7 linked regions of the Homo sapiens genome follow. The protein of the gene in region 1 purifies or fractionates together with the protein of each later gene. This does not show direct contact. Each region holds a gene or a part of one and is shown in the gene's direction. Other genes may lie near its edges. The genes, in order: ADNP, MGA, ZMYM3, SCAI, PHAX, SOAT1 and ZNF292.

What was found.
Region 2: the proteins of ADNP (region 1) and MGA purify together in Homo sapiens (affinity purification with mass spectrometry, with the first as the bait; one large-scale study listed by BioGRID). This does not show direct contact.
Region 3: the proteins of ADNP (region 1) and ZMYM3 purify together in Homo sapiens (affinity purification with mass spectrometry, with the first as the bait; one large-scale study listed by BioGRID). This does not show direct contact.
Region 4: the proteins of ADNP (region 1) and SCAI purify together in Homo sapiens (affinity purification with mass spectrometry, with the first as the bait; one large-scale study listed by BioGRID). This does not show direct contact.
Region 5: the proteins of ADNP (region 1) and PHAX fractionate together in Homo sapiens (co-fractionation; one large-scale study listed by BioGRID). This does not show direct contact.
Region 6: the proteins of ADNP (region 1) and SOAT1 purify together in Homo sapiens (affinity purification with mass spectrometry; one large-scale study listed by BioGRID and IntAct). This does not show direct contact.
Region 7: the proteins of ADNP (region 1) and ZNF292 purify together in Homo sapiens (affinity purification with mass spectrometry, with the first as the bait; one large-scale study listed by BioGRID). This does not show direct contact.

The regions. Positions count from the first base shown.
Region 1 is NC_000020.11:50,900,438-50,903,937, reverse strand, and holds part of ADNP (activity-dependent neuroprotector homeobox protein), read left to right. Parts: coding exon 1-49; intron 50-1,828; coding exon 1,829-1,921; intron 1,922-3,500.
Region 2 is NC_000015.10:41,764,905-41,768,404, forward strand, and holds part of MGA (MAX gene-associated protein), read left to right. Parts: coding exon 1-158; intron 159-1,099; coding exon 1,100-2,376; 3' UTR 2,377-3,500. UniProt on the Homo sapiens protein: Functions as a dual-specificity transcription factor, regulating the expression of both MAX-network and T-box family target genes. Functions as a repressor or an activator.
Region 3 is NC_000023.11:71,244,141-71,247,640, reverse strand, and holds part of ZMYM3 (zinc finger MYM-type protein 3), read left to right. Parts: intron 1-130; coding exon 131-296; intron 297-948; coding exon 949-1,046; intron 1,047-1,128; coding exon 1,129-1,288; intron 1,289-1,542; coding exon 1,543-1,655; intron 1,656-1,798; coding exon 1,799-1,973; intron 1,974-2,155; coding exon 2,156-2,302; intron 2,303-2,747; coding exon 2,748-2,851; intron 2,852-3,170; coding exon 3,171-3,339; intron 3,340-3,500. UniProt on the Homo sapiens protein: Plays a role in the regulation of cell morphology and cytoskeletal organization.
Region 4 is NC_000009.12:125,137,029-125,140,528, reverse strand, and holds part of SCAI (protein SCAI), read left to right. Parts: intron 1-3,500. UniProt on the Homo sapiens protein: Tumor suppressor which functions to suppress MRTFA-induced SRF transcriptional activity. May function in the RHOA-DIAPH1 signal transduction pathway and regulate cell migration through transcriptional regulation of ITGB1.
Region 5 is NC_000005.10:126,607,447-126,610,946, forward strand, and holds part of PHAX (phosphorylated adapter RNA export protein), read left to right. Parts: intron 1-917; coding exon 918-1,038; intron 1,039-3,500. UniProt on the Homo sapiens protein: A phosphoprotein adapter involved in the XPO1-mediated U snRNA export from the nucleus.
Region 6 is NC_000001.11:179,345,797-179,349,296, forward strand, and holds part of SOAT1 (sterol O-acyltransferase 1), read left to right. Parts: intron 1-1,803; coding exon 1,804-1,901; intron 1,902-3,047; coding exon 3,048-3,146; intron 3,147-3,500.
Region 7 is NC_000006.12:87,158,565-87,162,064, forward strand, and holds part of ZNF292 (zinc finger protein 292), read left to right. Parts: intron 1-3,500. UniProt on the Homo sapiens protein: May be involved in transcriptional regulation.

The DNA.
Region 1 (3,500 bases):
AAAAATACTTAGTGACATTGGGTTGGAATACTGTAAAGAACATATAGAAGTAAGTAGCATGTCATTTTTAAATTTTAACATGACTCAGCTTCTGATCCATTACTTTGTGTCAGTGGCCAAGATGGCTAAATCTTAGATGTGATTCTGAATTTCAGCCACAGCAGTAGCTTCACGAAAACATTCTCAATAGCATTAACTTGTGCCTTTCTCCCTAAAATGGGCTTTTTCATTTTTGCATCCTGAAGCAGAAGGCTACCATTGAGGACTTAAGCATGTCAGGCGTTGAACTAGGTGCCGTAAAGTTGTCTATACATTTAATCCTTAGAACAACCATGGAGGCGGGAGGCAGTGTAGCAGTTCTTATCTCCACTTCACAGATGAAGAACAAATAAATAGGCCCAGCCTTGCAGCTGAGAAAGTGGCAGTGTCTGTGGGACTCAAAGCCTGTTCTCATTCTGATACGCCTGAATGTTCTGGTTGACCTTCTTCTAATTGTTGAGGCGTGCTTGTGTGGGTGCTTGTTGTCTCTTTCCTTAGGATTTGAGCATTTGTTGCCCCTTTTGACCCATCATAGACTATTACTTTCCCCCTTGTATAACAGTTTGGGCTTTATGAACTGTTTTTCAAGCTGTTTTATTCTATGAGCTTTATAACAGCTCTGTGGGATAGCCATGCAGTGGTCTCCTTTTCAACATCTCACTGTTCCAGGTCTTATGGTTTGTTGGTCAGAGCCCCTGATTGAAAAGAAATGTTTGAAGCTGTTTCCCCCACTAACCTTTAAGTTCTAGGTGGCTAGGGAACATAGCTACCTTGTTTATCCATTTAGCCCCAGCACCTAGCACAGTGTTTTGCACGTAATAGGTGATCAGTAAGTGTTTGAATGGAATTGGAAGTAAAAAAGCAAATTCATTCATACAACAGGTTTTCTTAATTTGAGTTCCACTAATAATACTTGAAGAGTATGGCATGGAAACAGAAGCTGCTCAAAAGTTGACTTCTCTAGTCACGTTGTTCCAAGTGTGGAAGTAGCCCTTCTCCAACCCCAGAGTTCAGGTAGATCTGCCCAAATGAAACAGTCCATTCACTTTGCACTCTGTGGGGTCATCTTCATAGAAATAATTAATACCAACATCACAGTACATTTCTGTCATGCATTTGATTTGTTCCTCCTATGATTATTTATGTGTAGACTTCATTTTCCACCTTGAACTGTGAACTTTTTAGGAACAAGTGGGATTTTACCCTAAGACTTTTAATCTTCCTAGTCTGGAGGGAAGTGGACCATTAAATTTTTACATGAGAGTATAAATTTAACATCATACTGCTTAACTTTCTTTGAATAGCTTTCTTTCTGCCTTTTTGGGTTTGAAATTTGAGTTTTCTTCCTGATCTGATCTCCTGCCCCCTCCCCTCGAAAAAAATCTTTTTTTTGCACAGAACCAGAAATCATATTTGCAGTGCTGTAAGCAAACATTGCTATTTTAGACACCATTCCAGTACTGTAACTGACGAGTTAGAGTACAGTACTCTAATGAAAAGTGCTTTGATATTAGTGTGTGGCTGAATTTTTTACTTAATTAGAACTTCCAGCAATTTCCTTGGAAACCTGACTGACCATCAGGAAAGTGGTTGGTTGATATAAAATGTAGACTGCAACTTCCATATGCCTTTTTATATTTAAGAGCCTTATCACTCCTAGTTTAAGTCCTTGTTGACGTTGGTTTTCCTGTGCCTCTCCCCATCTTAGTTAAGAGGTGAGATTTACATGTAAGATTGGGTTAGCGTTTATACCACTATGTTTTTGTAAACTTATTTCACTGTTTTCTAGGATTTTAAACAATTTGAACCTAATGACTTTTATTTGAAAAACACTACATGGGAGGATGTAGGACTGTGGGACCCATCACTTACGAAAAACCAGGTAAGTGGCACAGGAGACTTCCTCAGATGGCAGCATGCTTGGTATACTCCCTTTTCAGCTCTAGGCCTTTTATAGCGGTGCAGTGATTGCGGGCAAGTGCCAAACATCGAAAGTGTCAAAATTGCATTTCATATTTTCCTGACCAGTGGGAAGACTAAGAAAAACTTTTTGTCCTTTTTTGTCATTGGACTAAAACTTGAGGTGTAAGAAGAAACAAAATTTTGTTACTTAAAAGTTACGAAGCCTGCTGTATCCCACCATTTCCCCTAAAAGTGCTCTGGCTCTATTTTTCTGCATCTGTGTTGCCATTCTTGTTTTTTCTGCACAGAAAAAGACAAGACCCTTCCTTACATTTAAGCTTTTCTTATTTCCCTATGTTGATGGCACCCAACTTCTATGGGAGGCCTGGGGAAGTGACTCTGTAGGATGTCAGTGACAGAGAGATAAAACTTCTTACAAATTGGCATTAAAAACAATATTAGCACTGCCAGCAAGTATCAATAGATGATGATGATGTCATATAGGTGATATTTCCTTCTGCATAGAGAGAGGTAATTGTCAATTTAATTTTTACCATTACCTATTTTAGGAGTGATTCTCATTCTGCATTAATGATCTGTTCATCTATCGGAACATACTTTTCAGGAAATTAGTACTCAGATATTTGACTTTTTTTTTTTTTTTTTTTTTTTTTTAAATACCCCAGGCAAAGTTACTAACCAGCAGTCTTAGAATGAGAATGCTTTCCAGTGGGACACATCATTTATTTAATTCAGTTTTATCAATCTGAAAGCCTCATAGCTGAATACTAAAGAAGAGTTGAGCTTTGAGGAGAAGCAGAGTATTTCATCATGGTTCAAACCAGTATCTGAAACAAGTAGGTTTCTAGGGAGAAAAGATAATCTCTTACCAAGCATGTCAGTTCACCTGCCTTCATCAAAGGACTGACTGCATAGGTGTTAACAATCATAATTCTGAAAGTTGCTCTTTGATATCAGTATATTCTATAATGTATTATTGGCTTTTAAATACCTCACCCTCCTCACAGTCTGTAGGACATTTTTATTTAACTTCTTGATTTGAATCAAAGCAGCTATTACTTCATTAGCTCTTTTGAAGTGTTCTTGGTTGAGAAGGAACAGCAAGGCTTATAGAAGAAAGCCAACTTTTCAAATCAGTCTTTCTTTTGATCAGCGCTGAATCTGATACTACACTGTACTTTAATCAGAGGAAAAAATGGAGATTTGCCTTTTTTCTATGAAAATTTATCCATAATGAGGAAAGGAATAAAAGATATAGCTTTATCTCTTGTAATTGTCTAATTGCACTAAAACATCGTGGGCCCTGAATTTTACCGCAGTCATTCACCACATAACGACATTTTGGTCAGTGATGAACTACATCTACGACAGTGGTCCCATAAGAATATAATTGAGCTGAAAAACTTGCTACCTTATGACATCATAGCGCAACATATGATTCATGTTTGTAGTGATACTAATGTAAACACACCTGTGCTGCCAGTCATAGAAGTATAGCACATACAGTTATTTACAGCGTATAATACCGTCGTGCATTG
Region 2 (3,500 bases), on another chromosome or scaffold:
CACTCCACACACCTCTGCCAACCTTGTGATGACTCCGCAAGGGCAATTGCTCACCCTAAAAGGTCCCCTATTCTCAGGACCAGTGGTAGCTGTTTCTCCTGATCTCTTAGAATCTGATCTTAAGCCTCAAGTTGCCGGTAGTGCTGTGGCTCTACCAGGTATGTTGTAAGTGTTGTCCTCTATGGGAAGTGATAAAGTTATCCCTAACATCTCACGGTGACCAAGGAAGGCTTTGGATGTGTTCTGTAATGATAAAGAGCTATTCTGTTGGCATTTGCCTTGGTAAGAGGTGGCCCTATTTTTAGAACACATTTGGCTTGAGCTGTGGTACTGTTTGGTGTGTTTTACACCTGGTATTGGGAACCATTTTGTGAACACTAGTAATTTCTAAGAGGAAGAATAAAAAAGATATCAGAGGGAAAGGAAGATGTTAAATGATCATGGTCTTAGGTCTTGGTGTTGATAAATATTTGTCACTTTTTGTGGTACTCAGAGATGATAACAGTCCTGCATTATTAGCCCCATTCACTTTGAGCACTACTCTGTTTTGGGGCAAAGGGTAAAGTTGAAAGAGAAGCCTCACTTGGGTGATTAGGTTCCAGGCAACTAAATTTCTATTAAGATGAAAGGGTCTCTTTAGTAATATTAGGATCCTGGTTACTTTATTGCCATTGCCAGCCAAAATTCCTTGTCTCTACCTGTTGCCAAACTCACTCTGGAGGACTCATCTTTCCTGGTTCCCATGCTGCCTTTAGGGCTTCATTTTCTGCGCTAAGTAGCAGTTAATTAGGTGAACAGAATCAAGATGCATTTCTGCCTTAGGAGAAGAATTAACTTGGGGAGCATTTCTATAAAATAATTAAATGGAACTTTAAAAAATGGTGGAAAGAGCCTTTTGGTTGGATTTTAGTTGAGATTTTTCTTGTTGGGTTAGGTCAATAATTTGAAGAACTGATATTTCTTTCATCTTTTTGATAAAAGTAGAGTGCTGAATTTAGACTACAAATCCCTAAGATGGTTATATGATATGACAGAGAGAAAGAGAGGTGTTAACACTAGATCTAAATGAATTTTTCTTTTTTTAATTTTTGTTTTTCAGAAAATGACGACTTATTTATGATGCCACGAATTGTTAATGTGACATCATTGGCCACAGAGGGAGGTTTGGTAGATATGGGTGGCAGCAAATATCCTCATGAAGTTCCTGATAGCAAGCCATCTGACCATCTGAAAGACACCGTCAGGAATGAAGATAATTCCTTAGAGGATAAGGGTAGAATCTCTTCCAGAGGAAACAGAGATGGCAGAGTGACGTTGGGTCCAACGCAGGTTTTTCTGGCAAACAAAGATTCTGGTTATCCACAAATAGTTGACGTTTCCAATATGCAGAAAGCACAAGAGTTCTTACCTAAAAAGATTTCTGGTGATATGAGAGGGATTCAGTATAAATGGAAAGAGAGTGAATCAAGAGGGGAGAGAGTGAAGTCAAAGGATTCTTCATTTCATAAATTAAAGATGAAAGATCTCAAGGACTCAAGCATAGAGATGGAACTGAGGAAAGTAACATCAGCTATAGAGGAAGCAGCTCTTGATTCCAGTGAACTGCTGACTAACATGGAAGATGAGGATGATACTGATGAGACACTGACTTCACTGCTCAATGAAATTGCCTTTCTTAATCAACAACTAAATGATGACTCTGTTGGCCTGGCTGAACTACCCAGCTCTATGGATACAGAGTTCCCAGGGGATGCTCGGCGGGCTTTTATTAGTAAGGTTCCTCCTGGAAGCAGAGCAACTTTCCAGGTTGAGCACTTGGGAACTGGTTTGAAAGAGTTGCCTGATGTTCAAGGGGAGAGTGACTCTATCAGTCCCCTCCTCTTGCACTTGGAAGACGATGACTTTTCTGAGAATGAAAAACAACTTGCAGAACCAGCCTCTGAGCCAGATGTCCTTAAGATTGTTATTGACTCTGAAATAAAGGATTCCCTCCTTTCCAACAAGAAAGCTATTGATGGAGGGAAGAATACTTCTGGCCTCCCTGCAGAGCCCGAAAGTGTGTCCTCACCCCCCACCCTACACATGAAGACTGGCTTGGAGAACAGCAACAGCACAGACACTTTGTGGAGGCCTATGCCAAAGTTGGCCCCTCTAGGTTTAAAAGTAGCTAATCCTTCCAGTGATGCAGATGGTCAGAGTCTCAAGGTGATGCCTTGTTTGGCACCTATAGCTGCCAAAGTTGGGTCAGTTGGACACAAAATGAACTTAACAGGGAATGACCAGGAAGGCCGGGAAAGCAAGGTGATGCCTACATTGGCACCTGTTGTGGCTAAATTGGGCAACTCGGGGGCCTCACCAAGTTCTGCAGGGAAATGAACTTACTTGTCCTTAAGCAGAAGCCAGGCTGTGAGGGGAAATAGATCTCACCTCCTTTCTCTGCAGGCATCTGTTTGTTTGTGTCTTAGAACTTGGATCCTTGACTTCAATGATGCAGTGGATAATGATGGGAGAAAGGGGGTAGGGTGCTGACCCTGGTATAAGAAGTACTCTGAAATTCTGATCATGTTAAAATGTGTTACCTCACTTGTGGTGCTGGGTCCCCTCATCCTCTCTAAGAAGATGTGATCCATTACTGAACATGAGGTGCCCCTCTTACCCAAGGAATTTATAACATGACTCTGGCTCCACAGTGGTTTCTAGTTCTTCCCCCACAAGCGAAAGAGCTGTTTGCAACTTTGGAGTTGCTGTAGACTGAACTGTAGCTTGTAGCTGTTGAATTAAGTCCAAAATCTAAGGAATGCGATGGACTTGTGCAAAGGGATCCAGAAGAGACACTTTTTAGTTGATGTTTCAAGAATAGGGAGAGAGAGGATGGGTACCATGGAATACCAAAGTGAAGGACTTTGTGTCATTCAGTAAAATTTTCTTTTTTCATATCCTAAGTAGCTCCCATTCCCTCACCTTTTCAATCAGAATTAACAAATTCAAGCCTTCAGTAAAGTAGGGATGCTTTTAACTTTTATTATTAATTATTTTGAGATCTTAAAAAAATAGTAGTTCTCCCTTATTATTTTTGTGGGCATTGAAAAGCTCATTTCACAGTACCAGAGATTTTTACTGGGAGTATATATTTTGGAGGTAGGCATAGAGGGAGCCCTACCCCTTCCACAAATTACGTTACTCAAGAGACAGCTAAAATAAAATGCATTATCTCCCCAGACCAGAGACAGTGGCCAAAATAAAAAATCATGGGGCTGGAAATTTCCCAAATCAAACCAGCCTCCTGGTGCTTGAAGGTTTCATTCACTATTACCTGCACAGGATGTAAAGAAAAGTCACAGTAGGCACTCTTTACCAGGGAAATAAGGCAGTATTTGAATCACAAGATATATTTTTTATCTGCAACCATGGATCCAATGATCTGTAGAGCTTTTTCACTCATTAACTGTCAGGATATGAAGGACTGACAGTCTGTAAAGATATTTATATTTTTGTATAGT
Region 3 (3,500 bases), on another chromosome or scaffold:
GAGGGCAGCCAGCCTTCCATCTCTAAGCTGGCCCGATCTCCAAGGGGAGGAGCATGGCTTATCCCGGGGGAAAGAAAGGGCCCAACGCATTTTAGGGAGGCAGGTCTGACCATCCTTTTGACATCCTCAGGCTGCCCGGTGCCATGCGTGTAAGCGCCAGGGGAAGCTGCTGGAGACCATCCACTGGCGTGGGCAGATCCGTCATTTCTGCAACCAGCAGTGTCTTCTGCGTTTCTATAGCCAGCAGAACCAACCCAACCTGGATACCCAGAGTGGGCCCGAGAGCCTCCTGAACAGTGAGTCCCAGGCAGGGGGTACACTCTGTTAGAGGGAGCCTGGACTCTCCTAATCCTAAGCCTAGCCCCTTTCTCCTTCCTCTTGCGTTCAGCTCACCCCTGGCCAGATAGGGTGCTAGTACTGTGAACTGTATTCTCTTTTAGCTTCCGAACCCTGCAGGTACCGGGGGAGTCTTATTTAAAGCTTCTTGGAGTTAGCATCTACTGATTGTCTATGAAATATATATTGTTAGGGAGTGGGTGCCTTTCCTGGTAGGATGGAGCATATAGGGGTTATGGTTACGTTTCTGAGATAAGGAAATCTCAGCATAAACTCTACATTTAGTGAGACTGAAGACTGCTATTTCTAGAATGTTACCCCTGCCCCTCCACAACTCCAGGGATAACAGACTCTTCAGGCTATCTAAGTGGAAGGTCTCAAATGTGGGTTTTGGGGGAAAATGTAATGTTTCATTCTCCAGGAACAAATAATCTTTTAGGCTGCTATTGCTGGGGCATAGAGGAGACTAGATCTGGGATGGCAAGGGGGTCAAATCCTAGAAGTTCCCATCTGTATTTGGTGTACCTGTTAATGAAGCTCTCCTGGAACAGGGGTAAGGAAAATGGAGAGCTAGTCCCTTGGATGAGAGCATTCATTTGTTTTGATCTACAGGTCAGTCTCCTGAGTCAAAACCCCAGACACCCTCTCAAACCAAAGTGGAGAACAGCAACACAGTGAGGACCCCAGAGGAAAATGGGAATTTGGGCAAGGTCGGGGCAAAAGCCAAGGGGGAGGATAATCTCAGAGGAGGGTACGGCGGTTGGTGGCACAAATGTTCCTCTGTCTTTGCAGATCCCTGTGAAGACCCGATCAGCTCCCACTGCTCCCACCCCTCCACCCCCACCACCCCCAGCAACACCCCGCAAAAACAAGGCTGCCATGTGTAAGCCACTGATGCAGAATCGGGGCGTCTCCTGCAAGGTGGAGATGAAGTCCAAAGGAAGTCAAACAGGTGAGCCAGGGTACCTCGATGCCACAGGCTGTATTCCAGAGTCCTAGGCCTGCCAGCCCTATGTCCGTGAGCTGGACAAGGGGATTTCTTAGGTAGCTGAAGCCTCATTCATATGGTTGTCCTAGAATCATAGAGGTGTCTTTCAGCCTTTGATTCAAGGGCAGTTTTGTGACACTGAGCATGTTAGAGCTTTTGGTGGGTCAGATGTGACCAGTCCAGCAGGGTCTCTGAGAAGACCCCTTTCTTATCCACAGAAGAGTGGAAGCCACAGGTGATCGTGCTGCCCATCCCAGTGCCCATCTTCGTGCCAGTGCCTATGCATCTGTACTGCCAGAAAGTCCCGGTGCCTTTCTCGATGCCTATCCCGGTGAGTTTCCCTGCCCTTCCTGGCTGGGTCCTCCTTTCCCCTTACTCTCATCAACTGTCCCCCTTCACTCATCATCTGTCCCCCCAACTTCCCCCCAACTGCTGGTGTGGTTCTTGGCATTTAGTTGGGATTCGTGCCTCCAGGTGCCTGTGCCCATGTTCTTGCCCACTACCTTGGAGAGCACAGACAAGATTGTAGAGACCATTGAGGAGCTGAAGGTGAAGATCCCTTCCAACCCCTTGGAGGCCGACATCCTGGCTATGGCAGAAATGATTGCAGAGGCTGAGGAGTTAGACAAGGCCTCATCTGACCTTTGTGGTATGCCATAGATGGTGGCGACGAGGGAGACAGGGTGCTACCAGCATGTCTCTGCCCGAGGGGGTGGTATTGGTGATCTTGGTGCCTAGTAGAATGGGAGGATAGTTGGGATCAGTCCCTGAAAGCTTGTGAGGGTGCTAGCAGGAGCTTGTAACCACTGAGCCAACTTCTCTGCTTCCCAGATCTTGTGAGCAACCAGAGTGCAGAGGGACTCCTGGAAGACTGTGACCTGTTTGGGCCTGCTCGAGATGATGTCCTGGCCATGGCAGTCAAGATGGCCAATGTCTTGGATGAGCCTGGGCAAGACTTGGAGGCAGACTTCCCTAAGAGTGAGTAAGATTGGAGCCATGCCCACTGAGTATGGTAGCATTTGTGCCATCAGGAAGGGAGTGTCCCTTGTGTCCCTGAGCATGACCCTGAAAAGTGTTCATTGTGATTCTAAGACGGAAGGTTCTCACAGGGAGCAGTGCCAGAGACACCAGGACAGGTGCACTCTTTTAGACTTCTGAGTCATGCTTTTTTTTTTTTTTTTTTTTTTTTAATTTTTAAGCTGAAAAAAAACATAAAATTTTACCATGTTCAACATGTTTACGGTTCAGTAGTTCACATTGCTGTGTTTTGCGTTTCTGTGCCTCTGAGCATGCTTTTTGGTATAGCTTTACTGGTTCCTTTGGCTCATCTAGTGTCAAGTGGGCAAGTAGCAGGGGTGGGGCAGGAGGGCTGCAGGGTTGAGATCTTAAGAAATTGATTTCTTCTTTCTTTCCTTTTCATTAGATCCTCTGGACATTAATCCCAGTGTAGACTTCCTCTTTGATTGTGGCCTGGTAGGGCCTGAGGATGTGTCTACTGAACAAGACCTTCCCCGAACCATGAGGAAGGTAGGGCTGGGGCTACTGTATGTACAAAAGAAGAATGGAGGCCCAAAGGGGAGATGATGCGAGAGCCAAGCCAGCAACCATAGTTTGACCTTCCCTAACCTCCTTTCTCCAACACTAGAAGTACTGAGATAAAGCCAAACTTTGCTCTCCCCCCATCTCACAAGGTCATCAAAGCTGTTCCTGGGGCTCTGTGCTATGGAAGCTTGCTGTGTGCTTACATCAGCCCCTGCCCCGGCCAGCAGTAAATATGGTGCTGACTAGCTTTCACCTTGCCTCTGGCCTTACCTCTGCCATGCCCCTGCTTTCTCTTCCCCTCCAGGGTCAAAAGCGGCTGGTGCTTTCCGAAAGCTGCTCCCGGGACTCCATGAGCAGTCAGCCTAGTTGTACCGGGCTCAACTATTCATATGGTGTCAATGCTTGGAAGTGCTGGGTGCAGTCAAAATATGCCAATGGAGAAACCAGCAAGGGTGATGAGCTGCGCTTTGGCCGTAAGTACTTGGGGATGGGGGGTGTGGGGAGGCAGGGACAGGGAGGAGGAGGGGAAAGGGGAGAAGGGGCTGGGCCTGTGATTCAGCTGAAGATGTCTAGAAGTGATAAGGGTGTGATCCCTTAAGGATGCCCTGTGAAGATGGGGAGGAGTTGTAGATTA
Region 4 (3,500 bases), on another chromosome or scaffold:
TGAGACAAAGTCTTACTTTGTTGCCCGTACTGGAGTGCAGTGATGTGATCTTGACTCACTGCAATCTCCGCCTCCTGGGTTCAAGCAATTCTCTTTCCTCAGCCTCCCGATTAGCTGGGATTACAGGCGCCTGCCACCATGCCCGGCTAATTTTTGTATTTTTAGTAGAGACGGGGTTTCAACATGTTGGCCAGGCTGGTCTTGAACTCCTGGCCTCAAGTGCTCTGTCTGACTAGGCCTCCCAAAGTGCTGGGATTACAGGTGTGAGCCACCGGGCCTGGCCTTCACTTACTTCTTTTTCCTTTTTATTTTTCTTCTGAGACAGGGCTTGGCTCTGTTGTCAAGGCTGAAGTGAAGTGGTGCAATCACAGCTCACTGCAGCCTCGACCTGGTAATCCTTCCACCTCAGCCTCCCAAGTACCTGGGACTACAGATGTGCACCACCATGCCAGGCTAACTTTTTATTTTTTGTAAGAGACAGGGTCTCACTGTGTTGCTCAGGCTGGTCTCCTGTGCTCAAGTGATGCGCCAGCCTTGGCCTCCCAAAGTGCTAGGATTACAGGCGTGAGCCACCATACCCAGCCTTTCTTTTTATTTTTTCTAATATGGCTACTAGAAAATTAAAAGCTGCATACATTTAACTTGCATTGTATTTCTTTGCATTGTATTTCTTTTGGATAGCTCTCATTTAACTCTCATTACCCCACTGCCAGACTCTTCAGTAGCCTTCTGACTGGTTTCCCTACCTTGAATCTGTAATTCCCTCCCTGTACTGTGCAAATCGATCTTGTAATTCTCATGCTTAGGATCCCTCTGTGCTTCCTCATTGCTTATTGAACATCATTCAGACTTTTAGCCTAATCATATAAAAAAATTGCCTTTATTTTACTTCTTCATACTTTCCCAGCCACGGTTAATACTTTGGCCATATCGATTTTCAATGATGGAACTATTAAATGTCTACTTTTAAATGATTTAACTTTCTGGTGAACCTTCAAGATGAATTAATTGCTGAATGTAACTCCGTGCTCCATTTGCCATTCCCAGAACTTATGTTCCCTCTTTGCTTTGGTTTTTTGTTTTTAGGGTTTTTGTTGTTTTTGTTGTTGTTGTTGTTGTTTTTTAAAGACGGTCTCACTTCAGGGTGGAGTGCAATGGTGTGACAATGGCTCACTGGAGCCTTGACTTCTCGGGCCCAGGTGATTTTCCCACCTCAGCCTCCCAAGTAGCTGGGACTACAGATGTGCATCACTATGCCCAGCTAATTTTTGCATTTTTTGTAGAGGTGGGGTTTTACCATGTTGCTCAGGCTGGTCGTGAACTCCTGGGCTTAAGCTATCTGCCTTCCTCAGACTCTCAAAGTGTTTGAATTATAGGCGTCAGCCACAGTACCTGGTCTGCTTTGGGTTTTTGTATGTGATTTCTTTTTCTTTCTGGAGTACTTTCTCCTTGCTCCTTGACAAGCCCCCTCCTTTAAGACTTTGCTCAGTGAGGGCTTCCCCCCACCCTCCCTCTGCTCCACCTTATTGGGTCCCATCATGGCCTGTACATACACTTACATGAAATGGTCTGGGCTGAATTTGAATTCAGCTCTGTCAAATGTAGTTTGCGAGATCATGTGCAAGTTAATAAGCCTGTCTCTGCCTCAGTTTCCTCATCTATATAGTAGAAATAATAGTTCTGCTGGCGTGGTGGCTCACGCCCGTAATCCCAGCACTTTGGGAGGTCAAGGTGGGCAGATCACCTGAGGTCGGGAGTTTGAGACCAGCCTGACCAACATGGAGAAACCCCATTTCTATTAAAAATACAAAATTGGGCCGGGCACGATGGCTCAATCCTGTAATCCCAGCACTTTGGGAGGCCAAGGCGGGCGGATCACAAGGTCAGGAGATCGAGACCATCCTGGCTAACACAGTGAAACCACGTCTCTACTAAAAACAAAAAAAATCAGCTGGACGTGGTGGCAGGTGCCTGTAGTCCCAGCTACTCAGGAGGCTGAGGCAGGAGAATGACGTGAACCCGGGAGGCAAAGCTTGCAGTGAGCTGAGCTCATACCACTGCACTCCAGCCTGGGCGACAGCGAGACTCCGCCTCAAAAAAAAAAAATTGGCTGGGCGTGGTAGCGCATGTCTGTAATCCCAGCTACTCGGGAGGCTGAGGCAGGAGAATCGCTTGGACCCAGGAAGTGGAGGTTGCAGTGAGCCGAGATTGCACCATTGCACTCCATCCTGGGCAACAAGAGCGAAACTCTGTCTCCAAAAAAAAAAAAAAAAAAAAAAGAAATAATAGTTCGACTTCCCCAAGGTTGTAAGGTGCCTAGGATAGTGCCTGGCACATAGAAGGTACACAATAAATTTTAGGTTAAAAAACACCCATCAAATATCTTTTATTTCCCACTTCTTTTCAAAATGAGAAGATTAAAAATAAAGGCCAAGAAGAAATGAAAGAAGCAGATAAAGCCAGTGGCAGAATTAGTGCATGGACCGGAAAGTCCTGCATCATTGCTAATGGTTGCTTTGGTGTTTGGCTCTGAGTTTTCTGGAGTAAAATGAAGAAGAAAATAAAGTTCAGTTTTCAGATTCATGGTATCTCTAAAATCAAACGTGAGTTTTTAAAGATTGCTTCTTGGCCAAGCGTGGTGGCTCACATCTGTAATCCCAGCACTTTGGGAGGCTGAGGCGGGTGGATCACCTGAGGTCAGGAGTTTGAGACCAGCCTGGCCAACATGACGAAACCCCATCTCTACTAAAAATACAAAAAATTAGCCGGGCATGGTGGCGCGTGCCTGTAATCACAGGTACTCAGGAGGCTGAGGCCAGAGAATCTCTTGAACCTGGGAGGTGGAGGTTGCGGTGAGCTGAGATTGCACCACTGCACTCCAGCCTGGGCAACAGAGTGAGACTCCGTCTTAAATAAATAAATAAAGATTGCTTCTTATACTTCTCAATCCAAGTGAGTTATTGCCAGTGAACAGTCTCCACGGGGCCAAAGCAATGTGGTTTTGGTATATGGCTCTCTGATGGTTTGGCTTGATTCAGAGGTAAAGAGGGATGCGTACACTGTGGGGACTATACGTGTTTTGTTCACTGTTTATCCCCAGCAGCTAGAATAGCATCTGGCACGTAGAGAACAGTTTATTGAATTTTTGAGTGAACAAATCCTTTAGTAATTCTCCAGGAATTTAAGTAAGCATCAGGTTGCAATGAGTTTATTTTCTCAGTCCAGAATCATGAGGCTACATATTCAGCATGCCTGATTTAGGTTAGATCCTGATCATGTCAGCATTTTGACCTGAATGGACAACCAGCACATGTATTTAAAGGTCCTATGGGCAGGACCAAGATTTTCCTCAGAAAACAGTGCAGGGGTTGCTCTAAAACTAGAAAACAAAATGTACAGTTAAGACCCCAAAGATGAATTATAGAATAAGGATGTAATGGTTGTAGCCAGATATTTAAAAAAATAGGTGTTAGGCCGGGCGCGGTGGCTCACACCTGTCA
Region 5 (3,500 bases), on another chromosome or scaffold:
GGAGTGCAGTGGTGCCATCTTGGCTCACTGCAACCTCTGCCTCAGCCTCAGGGTTCAAGCAATTCTCCTGCCTCAGCCTCCCAAGTAGCTGGGATTATAGGCATGTGCCACCACACCCAGCTAATTTTGTATTTTTTGTAAAGACGGGGTTTCTCCACGTTAGTCAGACTGGTCTCGAACTCCCAACCTCAGGTGATCCACCCACCTCGGCCTCCCAAAATGCTGGGATTATAGGTGTGAGCCACCACACCCAGCTGAATTCTTGATCTGTTGAGAGTGTGAGCTTTGACACTGGAAGAATTACTTAGGCTACCTATGTTTCTAACCTCTCAGTGACAAAATGAAAACGATAGTACCTATCTTGTACATTCTTGAGAGAATCAGCTGGCATAGTGCATGTAAGGTTCTTAGGATTGTGCTTATTATAATCATAATAAGCCATCAGTAAATATTAGCTGTTTCTATTTTTTGTTCTGAGGCAGGGAGTCTATGAGGGAAAGGTCCTATCCCATTTTAAAGCTCCAGACATCTCTGGAATTATGTGAGCCTTAGCTTTTAGGCGTAATAATTGAAAGTATATATGTCTGTTATTTATTTTGACAATAGTGGACTGCCTTTATCATCTTTTGCATTCAGACCTGCATTCATCGTGCTGCATGTGCATTTTGAAATCTGCTATAATCCAATAAGACAAATAAGCCAATTATGAGAGTTTAGATGGAAACTTGAGGTTACCATCTCCTTCTGTGACCCAAGATTAGGAATATTTACATGTCAGTGATTCCAAGATTAAATATTGAAGATTTAGAAAACCAAAAGTTACTAGAATCAGATTTTTATTCTAGCTGGTGACTAAGGTAGATTTCTTCAACTTTGTACAACAAACAAAGAGGATAATTTTACTTGTTTCTCATCAGGTTACAGGAACCAAAGAAAGACCTGATAGCCCGAGTAGTGAGGATTATTGGTAACAAAAAGGCAATTGAACTTCTGATGGAAACCGCTGAAGTTGAACAAAATGGTGGTCTCTTTATAATGGTAAGACTGCTTAACTGTTTTTGTTTTTGTATTGTTTATCCTGTGTTTTTGTTTTTGATTACAAATTTAACTTTGCCCTTGTTGGATCTGTGATTTATCATGCATTCTTACAGTATGTTTGAAGTTTTTAAACTATTATCAACAATGAAGACTGTTAAAAAAAAATTAGTTGCCAGGCACGGTGGCTCAAGCCTGTATTCCTAGCACTTTGGGAGGCTGAGGCGGGCCGATCACCTGAGATCGGGAGTTCGAGACCAGCCTGACCAACATGGAGAAACCCTGTCTCTACTAAAAATACAAAATTAGCCAAGCGTGGTGGCACATACCTGTAATCGCAGCTACTCAGGAGGCTGAGGCAGGAGAATCACTTGAACCTGAGAGACCAGAGGTTTCAGTGAGCTGAGATCGCACCCTTGCACTCCATCCTGGGCAACAGGAGCGAAACTCCGTCTCAAAAAAAAAAAGAATAAAAAGAAAAAAAAATTAGTACAGTTGTTTTTGCAGTTAGTACTTCCCTGACAAAAAAACAAACAAACAAACATAAATTATAGCCTGTTGCCGTATAGTCACCAAAACATTTCTTACATGATTTGTTAAAGGTAGGGGTTGAATTTTTTTTTTTTTTTTTTTTTTTGAGAAGGAGTCTCGCTCTGTCGCCCAGACTGGAGTGCAGTGGCGCAATCTCGGCTCACTGCAACCTCCGCCTCCCGAGTTCAAGCAATTCTCCTGCCTCAGCCCCCCAAGTAGCTGAGATCACAGGCATGCACCACCACACCCGGCTAACGTTTGTATTTTTAGTAGAGACGGGGTTTCACCATGTTGCCCAGGCTGGTCTCAAACTCCTGACCTTAGGCAATCCACCCAGCTCGGCCTCCCAAAGTGCTGGGATTACAGGCGTGAGCCACTGCACCCGGCCAAAGGGTTGAAGTTTTAAGACGACAAAGTCTAGGGGAGCCTAGGAGCTCAGATCTTGAGAATATGGGTTTTAGAGTTTGGGTACCCTTTTTTACTTCTAGATTTTCAACATACTAATTGAAATTCGGCTAAGTTGTTTGACTTCTTGGAGCCTCAGTCTCCTCAGCTGTAAAATGGAGATTAGTCCTACATTTTAAGGATTAGAGGAGATGGTGCACATGAAATACTGACCACAGTGCCCAGCACTTTAGCAATGGTAAACAGAAGTGTTCATTTTGGTTCACTTAATTCATGCATTCTTGAAAAAGAGGGCAAAAAAAAAAAACAAAACACCCTTTTTTTTGTTTGTTTGTTTTTTGAGACGGAATCTCACTCTGTCGCCCAGGCTGGAGTGCAGTGGCACGATCTCAGCTCACTGAAACCTCCATCTCCCGAGTTCAAGCAATTCCCCTGCCTCAGCCTCCCAAGTATGCTGGGACTATAGCCTGCCACCACGCCCAGCTAGTTTTTGTATTTTAGTAGAGGCAGGCTTTCACCATGTTGCCTAGGCTGGTTGAGAACTCCTGAGCTCAGGCAATCCGCCTGCCTCGGCCTCCCAAAGTGCTGGGATTACAGGCTTGAGCCACTGTGCCCGGTCAACACTTTTGTTATGTAAGCACAGATAGATACACAATAAAGTACAAATAGGTATACAGTATTTTTGTGTGTATTAAAATTTCCTGGGTATAAGAATGAAAGTTGGGGGAAGTCTAAAAAGTTCCTGGGGTGGTAGAGCAATAATGGGAGAAAAGTTTGAGAAGCTCTTTACTGTTTCAGAATGACAGAAAGAGCTCCTCTGGCTAGGCCAGATCACGAGCACTGGCGGTTATAGAAGGGTTTGGCATATCTCATTGAATTCAGCTTTCACCACAGGGTGAGGATGAAGGTTTGAATGACTTCCTTGTTTTTTGTTACTGATAAGTCTGAATACTGTAATAACATCACAAGGGAGTAGATCAATATTGTGCTTTGGACATGGGGAGAAAAAAAACCCAGTTAGGATTAATAGCATTGGCTAAGGAAACAGCCTGTGAACATAAATTACAGAAGTCAAAACAGAAGTTAGCAACAAAAGAAATTATAATAATCATGAATGCACTGCCATCCCTATTTGTGTCATTGTTAAAGTACTTCAATTTTCATTCAGTTGAACACAGAGTTACAGATTTCATCAATATTTTAGTACTGTAGTGATAAAACTTTATATTCCAGTGAGCTAATGCAGATTTACTGAATATTGGGAAGATGCAAGTTCAAATTTACTTTCTTATTTTATTTTATTTTTTGAGACACAGTCTGGCTCTCTTGCCCAGGCTGGAGTACAGTGGCGCGATCTCAGCTCACTGTATCCTCCACCTCCCAGGCTCAAGCCATCCCCCACCTCAGCCTTCTGAGTAGCTGGGATTGCAGGTGCGTGCCACCGCGCTTGGCTAATTTTTTGTGTTTTTAGTAGAGATGGAGTTTTACCATGTTGCCCAGGCTGGTTTTGAACTTGTGAGCTCAAGGAA
Region 6 (3,500 bases), on another chromosome or scaffold:
GTCTCAGCCTCTCAAAGTGCTGGGGTTACAGGCTTGAGCCACCATGCTTGGCCTTTTGCCACTATTTCTTATTTTCCTCCTGTCTTTCCGACCATACCTTGATTTCTTAAATATATTTATTGCATTTTTTTGTCTATTATAGAGATATATGAGTACCTAGTACTATGCCAGGTGCAGAGGACTCAGAAGTGAACAAGAGATGTATTATCTTTACAGTCTGGGAGCTTTTATAGTTTCCCTTACTTTTCCTCTTTTCTTTACTCATTGAATGTTGGTAATGTTTTCTGTCATCACCTTCCCTTTCTTTTCTTCTCTTGCATTCCTCTTCCAGTAACCCTCCCTCACCAGCCCCAGGACTTATTTGAATGAACTCTGTATCTGTCCCTAAAATAGAATATGTGTTACATACTTGAGTGTCTTCCTCACTAGCTGCAAAGTTATTGAGTTCAAGGATTGTGTTTTATAGCCAATCACAGTCTCTCTCATATTGTCTGGTACATAGTTGATGCTCTATAAATATATATTTTTCAATAAATGAGTGAAAGAGATGGACATATAAATGGATATTTTACAATATATTGTAATATGTACTACATAAGTAGGATAAACAAAATGCTTATGGCCTTTGTTTCACATTAGAGATAACATTTAATATTGGGTATTGAAAAATAGGTAGGTATTTGCCTGGCAGAGAATTGGTGGAAAGGTCATTCTAGGTAGTGGGATGGATGCAAGGGCATGGAGCATTCTGGAATGGCATAAACCCAGTTGTGGATAATGTTTACAACACTTAGAGGGTAGAATCACTGGAGATATGTTTAGAATGTTATCCATGTCACTATGTTAACCATGTCACTATTAACATTTTGGACTGGTTAATTCTTTGTTTGGAGTGGCATTCTTCTGCATTGTAGCATAAACTGTTCAGCAGCATCCTGGCCTCTAACAACTAGATACCAGTGGCACCACTCCCTCTCCTCCAATTGTCACAGCACTGGTGCAGTAGCTTGCACCGGTAGTCCCAGCTATTCTGGAGGCTGAGGTGGGAGGATCACTTGAGCCCCAGGAGTTGAAGTTCAGCCTGGGCAACATAGTGAAACCCTGTCTTTTAAAAACAAAAAGTCTCTAGAATTTCAAATGTCCTGTGGGGGAGAGGGGGCAAAATCTCTCCCAGTTTTAAACAATTGTTTAAGAGGGGGGTATGGGGGCCAGATTTTTAAAGGACCTTGGGTACTAAGTTAAGCCATATATTTAGGCATTTCTTAAAAACAGACTGGGTAGGCTGGGCGCGATGGCTCACGCCTGTAATCCTAGCACTTCGGGAGGCTGAGGTGGGCAGATCACAAGGTCAGGAGATTGAGACCTGCCTGGCCAACATGGTGAAACCCGGTCTCTACTAAAAATACAAAAAATTAGCCAGATGTGGTGGTACATGCCTGTAGTTCCAGCTACTTGGGAGGCTGAGGCAGGAGAATTGCTTGAACCCTGGAGGCAGAGGTTGCAGTGAGCCGAGATCGCGCCACTGCACTCCAGCCTGGGTGACAGAGCAGGACTCTGTCTCAAAAAAGAAAAAAAAAAACCAGACTGGGTAATGTCATTTGTTGAACCCACTTTGAAGGAAGTTACTGTTTTAAAATTAAGATAATTAACTCCAAAAGTATATCATCTCTGGAATGGGTAAACTGGAATAATAACTTATATTTTACAAAATAATCCCAGCTAAATAAAATGATGTGATATAATTAGTTGCTTGGTATGTGAGCTATTTGGAAAGACTGTTAATATTGTTAATCTTATTTTTAGGTGTGCTGATTCTCTTCCTTACTTTTTTTGCCTTTTTGCACTGCTGGCTCAATGCCTTTGCTGAGATGTTACGCTTTGGTGACAGGATGTTCTATAAGGTAGTATATACTTAGACTTAGCTTTCTTTTTACATTTTATTAACTTCTTCATTATTAGTATTTTGACATTGTTGGCTAATGTCACCAGCCTTTCACACAAACATTGTGAAATAATTTTCTTTTCTACAAGTTTTGCCAGTATTTTCTGAAATTCGGTTACAGATATAACTAGCATAACCTTGTGTTTTCTTCTGTCTCTAATATCTGCTCCCTTAACATAAGCACATGGTTTCTGCTGGATCCTGCAAGGATATATTGGTGATTCCAGTAGGAAACTGTTTGTTCAGAGCACACCATGAGACTTCCCTGAGTGTTCATTCATTTGAAATGGACCGTCTAGTTCTGTAGGAATGACCTCAGCAAATTATTCCATTTAAGACAATTGAGCAGTTCATGAGGGAAATAACTTTTCCCTCTTTAGTTTTGAAAGGTGTTAATTTTGCTTCAGATAGTATCCTTATGCTTCTAAAGTTGGAATTAAGCTATAGAATTAGAGTCAGAATGGCTCATAGCATTCTTTAACCCTACCTAAAGCTCTCTTTGAGTTGTTTTTGGCAACACTCCAAGTCTACCACCTTTTTTCTCAAAGAAACTTTAAGTGTGGATTGCAGATTTTAGATACCTGATTTCATTCATCTGATCTTAATATTGGGAGCAAGAAGCATATATAGGGATACCAGGACTTTGAGGTAGCCACCATCTCACCCTGGATAATTTTGCCATTTATGGTAACCACCAAACAGCTCTCTAGTGTTAGCACTCTCTCTGGTCTTCATGACCATAGAATTTTCTCATGACATTCTAGTAGGGTAAGGGGGGTGGGGCTTACTGATTGCTGTTTAGATGAACATTAGATTTAAATGATTCTATGTGTTCCGTATGAACCTAGGAACTAAATCATATATAGTATGAGAATTCATGTCATATTCAACACTAATAACCAAAATGCCTTTGAAGATTTTTCTGTCACCAGTGTATGAACCAACAGTTTATCACAGTATAATTTGATTTTTCTGTTACATATGTTCTTTGGGAAGTCAGGGGGGTTTGCTTTCGGGTGGGATGTGTGTGTGTGTGTGTGTGTGTGTGTGTGTGTGTGTGTGTGTGTGTGTGTGTGTAGTTTTATACCTTTACTTTTTCCCTCAGGATTGGTGGAACTCCACGTCATACTCCAACTATTATAGAACCTGGAATGTGGTGGTCCATGACTGGCTATATTACTATGCTTACAAGGACTTTCTCTGGGTAAGTAGCAAGGTTTAAGTTGATATTATTTATGAAATGGAGATTCTTTTTCAGAAAGTATGAGTATTATACAGCTGGAAGAAGTTATATTTAATTGCTCATGAGGAAAGGGTGATAGTATCTTTTCAGTTTTCTTTTGAGAAATTTACATCTAGAAACCTGCTTTGAATGGTACTGCTTAGAAACCACTGTGTGTACACTAGTAGGTCTAATACTGTGTCTTTTGCTCTGAATTTTATCTTACATAACAAAGTAAGAATGCATGGAGGTTGTTGGAGTTGAAATGATCCACCAATAATGGATAGTTTCTTATGAGTCTTGTTGCCAACAAATAATCTCCCTTTGGTCTTTTTC
Region 7 (3,500 bases), on another chromosome or scaffold:
TTACGAGGCTGAGGTGGGAGGATCATTTGAACCCGGGAGGCAGAGGTTGCAGTGAGCAGAGATGGTGCACTGTGCACACTCCAGCCCGGGTGACAGAGAAAGATCCTGTCTCAAAAAAATAAAAAATAAAAATAAAATTGTATCTTAGCAATTATCACCTAGCATTTTGATACGAAGTTGAGTGAAGCAATGGTTAACAATTAAAGAATTTATTGGCGCAATCTAAATATAGTACCAGGGATACTAGGAGCTAGAAATTATGTCTTAGTTTCTAACCTTGAGATTATTATTTAACTTTTTCTGTTTAAGCTTTTCCTGTAAAACTGGGATAGTCACACGCTTCAAGAAGGCAAAGATGAATAAACGTTTGTCAAAGTTAATGGGCTTCAGAATTAATATTCTGTCAGTGTTGATGCTCAGTGCTTGTGTAACCCTTAGTTTTGCATTTACTTTAAAAAATGAATTAGTTTACATTCTATGTAATTTTTATGAGCAAAAGTTCAGTTTCTGGAGAATGTGGTGAAACCCACAGAAACAGGAGTTGCTTATGATCCGTAGTTTATAGATTTTTATTTTTGAGTGAGGTAGAAGATTAATAGATTTTTTGAATTCTGAGTAGCAGAATAGAAACGAAAGGCATTAAATGTTTTTCTTATTAACAGTGTTGTTTTGCTCATTCTGGAAATAAGCCACCTGCCCCCCCTTTGCTTATTTAAATGAGAATTTGCTTAAAGCTTAAGTGGGAGGAGGGAAGAGTAAGTAGAGGATGGGCATAGTAGAGCGCCCGTCATAAATTTTAAATTTTTTTATATATTTTATTTTATTTTTGAGAGATGGGGTCTTGCTACATTGCCCAGGTATGATCATAGCACACTACAACCTCAAACTCTTAGGCTCAAGTGATCCTCCTGTCTCAGCTTTCTTTTCTTTCTTTTTTTTTTTTTTTTTTTTTAAAAAAGATGTAGTTTAACTCTGTCACCCAGGCTGGTGTGCAATGGCGCAATCTGGGCTCACCACAACCTCCGCCTCTTGGGTTCAAGCAATTCTCCTGCCTCAGCCTCCTGAGTAGCTGGGATTACAGGCATGTGCCACCATGCCCGGCTAATTTTGTATTTTTACTAGAGACAGGGTTTCTCCTTGTTGGTCAGGCTGGTTCCGCCCCTCTTGGCCTCCCAAAGTGCTGGGATTACAGGCGTGAGCCACCACGCCCGGCCCTGTCTCAGCCTTCTAAGTAGCTGAGACCTCAGGCATACACCACCATGCCCAGCTCTTAAATTTCCTTGTATCTTTTCAAAGTTAGCTTTAATATGGGCAATATAACCAACTCATTTTCTTAAAATTGACTTAGAATAAGTATATAGAATAACCAGAAGTAATTTCTTGCATTTACTTGTTTTAGGATTATTACTGTATTTATTATACAAAAATTGGTTATAATTGGAACCTTTTAGACTAGTTAATTGTATTAGACTGGGCCAGTAGTCACTCATTCAACATTTCTATTGAACATCTACTGTATACAGGCTAGGCAAGGATGATCATGGTCCCTGGCTTCAAAGAGTTTATAGTCTCTGGAGGAAGGTAGACAGATAATCGTAGTAAACTATGATTTATATATTTTATCACTGAGGTGAGTACAGTAAAGAGGGAGGTTATTTGGGAGTTTTAAAAGAAACATTCCAACAGAGGAGTTGTTCTAAAGAGATTTTAAAATAATAGTTCGTTGGAAAAATTGGCCATTGTAATAGTTGATTTGTTGGAGTATGATATTTGCTGACAGCACTATATACTGGACTGGCCGACTGGTTGATTGTAACTGTTATTGACCATTGATCAGTAGTGATCTGGTGGCTGACAGTTGTTTTGAAGGGTTGAATTACAGTCGTGTGTGTATGTGTATACATACGTACATGTGTTTGTATATATATGTGTGTGTGTGTGTGTGTGTGTATATATATGCAAGGACCTAGGTTTAGATGTTACAGAGGATATAAGATACAGGAGACTCTAATAAAAAAATATGTTTGTGTGTATATATACATATATACGATGTGTGTGTGTATACATACATGTATACGGTGTGTGTGTGTGTATATATACATATATATGATGTGTGTGTGTATATATATATATATAATTTTCTTAGTTCATATAAGCAGGGCTTCTCAACTGGGCATAGTACTTTCCCTACCTCCAGTTCTCTCTTTGATGGCACTTAGAAATATGTGGGATCAGGTTTTTGGATGTTGCTATGACTAGGGATGTGGTACTGGCATTTAGTGCCCATGAGCTTCAATGCTAAGTTTTCTGAAGTGATCAGGACCGTCCCAACAAATGAAAGCGTAATTCCTCTAAGTACCCTTTTCAGAAACATTGAACAGAAAGAAAAATAGTATATCTAGAAGATTTTTTTTTTTAGTCCTTCTACTCTTTTCATATTGAGATAGTTAAGCTCCAGAAATATACTTTATTTGGAACAGGTCCAGGTAAATGATATTCAACAATATTTAAGTATAATTTATACTGACCATGAGAGGTCAAGAAACTTTCTACTTTCTTAGCAGAAATTACAAGCAATTGCATAAACAGTTAGTAAAACAACTTTTGCTAGGTTAAAGAGGGTAGCAAATTCAGCATAATTATCCTGATTAAAGAAAAGATTTGACATTTTGATATAATAAATTCTGTACTTTTAAGAAAGCATTTATATGCAAGGACCTAGGTTTAGATGTTATAGGAGATAAAAGATACGGGCAACTAGTGGGATATAAATTAGTAAGATAATATTTAAATATCACTTCAAAATGACAGCTGAAAAGATGTCAAAAGGCAGTGTATTAACTAACAAATTGTTTTGCTTTATTTTTATTTTTTTGAGACAGGGTCTCCACTCTGTCACCCAGGTGGGAGTGCAGTGACACAGTCACGGCTCACTGCATCCTTGACCAACTGGGCTTAAGCGATCCTCTTGCCTCAGCCTGAGTAGCTGGGACCACAGGTGCACATCAACATGCCTAACTTTAAAATTTTTTGTGGAGACAAGATCTCCCTACATTGCCCAGGTTGGTCTCAAACTCCTGTGCTCAAGCAGTCCTCCCACCTTGGTCTCCCAAAGTGCTGGGACTATAGGCGTGAGCCACTGCACCCAGCCTGGTTTTGCTTTTTTGTTGTTTGTTTTGTTTTGTTTTAAATTGAAAATGTACTAATTGAAATGGTTTTTTAAAATTCACCCTGAGAAAGGGCATACAATGAAAACTTGATCTTTTTCCCATTCTAGAGTTCCAGTCTCATTTCCACAAAGACAAATCCCCTAATGGTTTCCAGAACTAGTTTGCTCTTTTTAAGAAAATAAAGATAACTACACTGTATCTTGCTTTCCCTCCCCCCAAAAGCATCTTCTAGCTCATTCCATAGCTGCTCATGTAAGTTTTTGGCTTTCCCTATTATAGTATATAGTAATTCTAGTCTATGGCTGGGTCTAATTAATCAGTTCATTATCA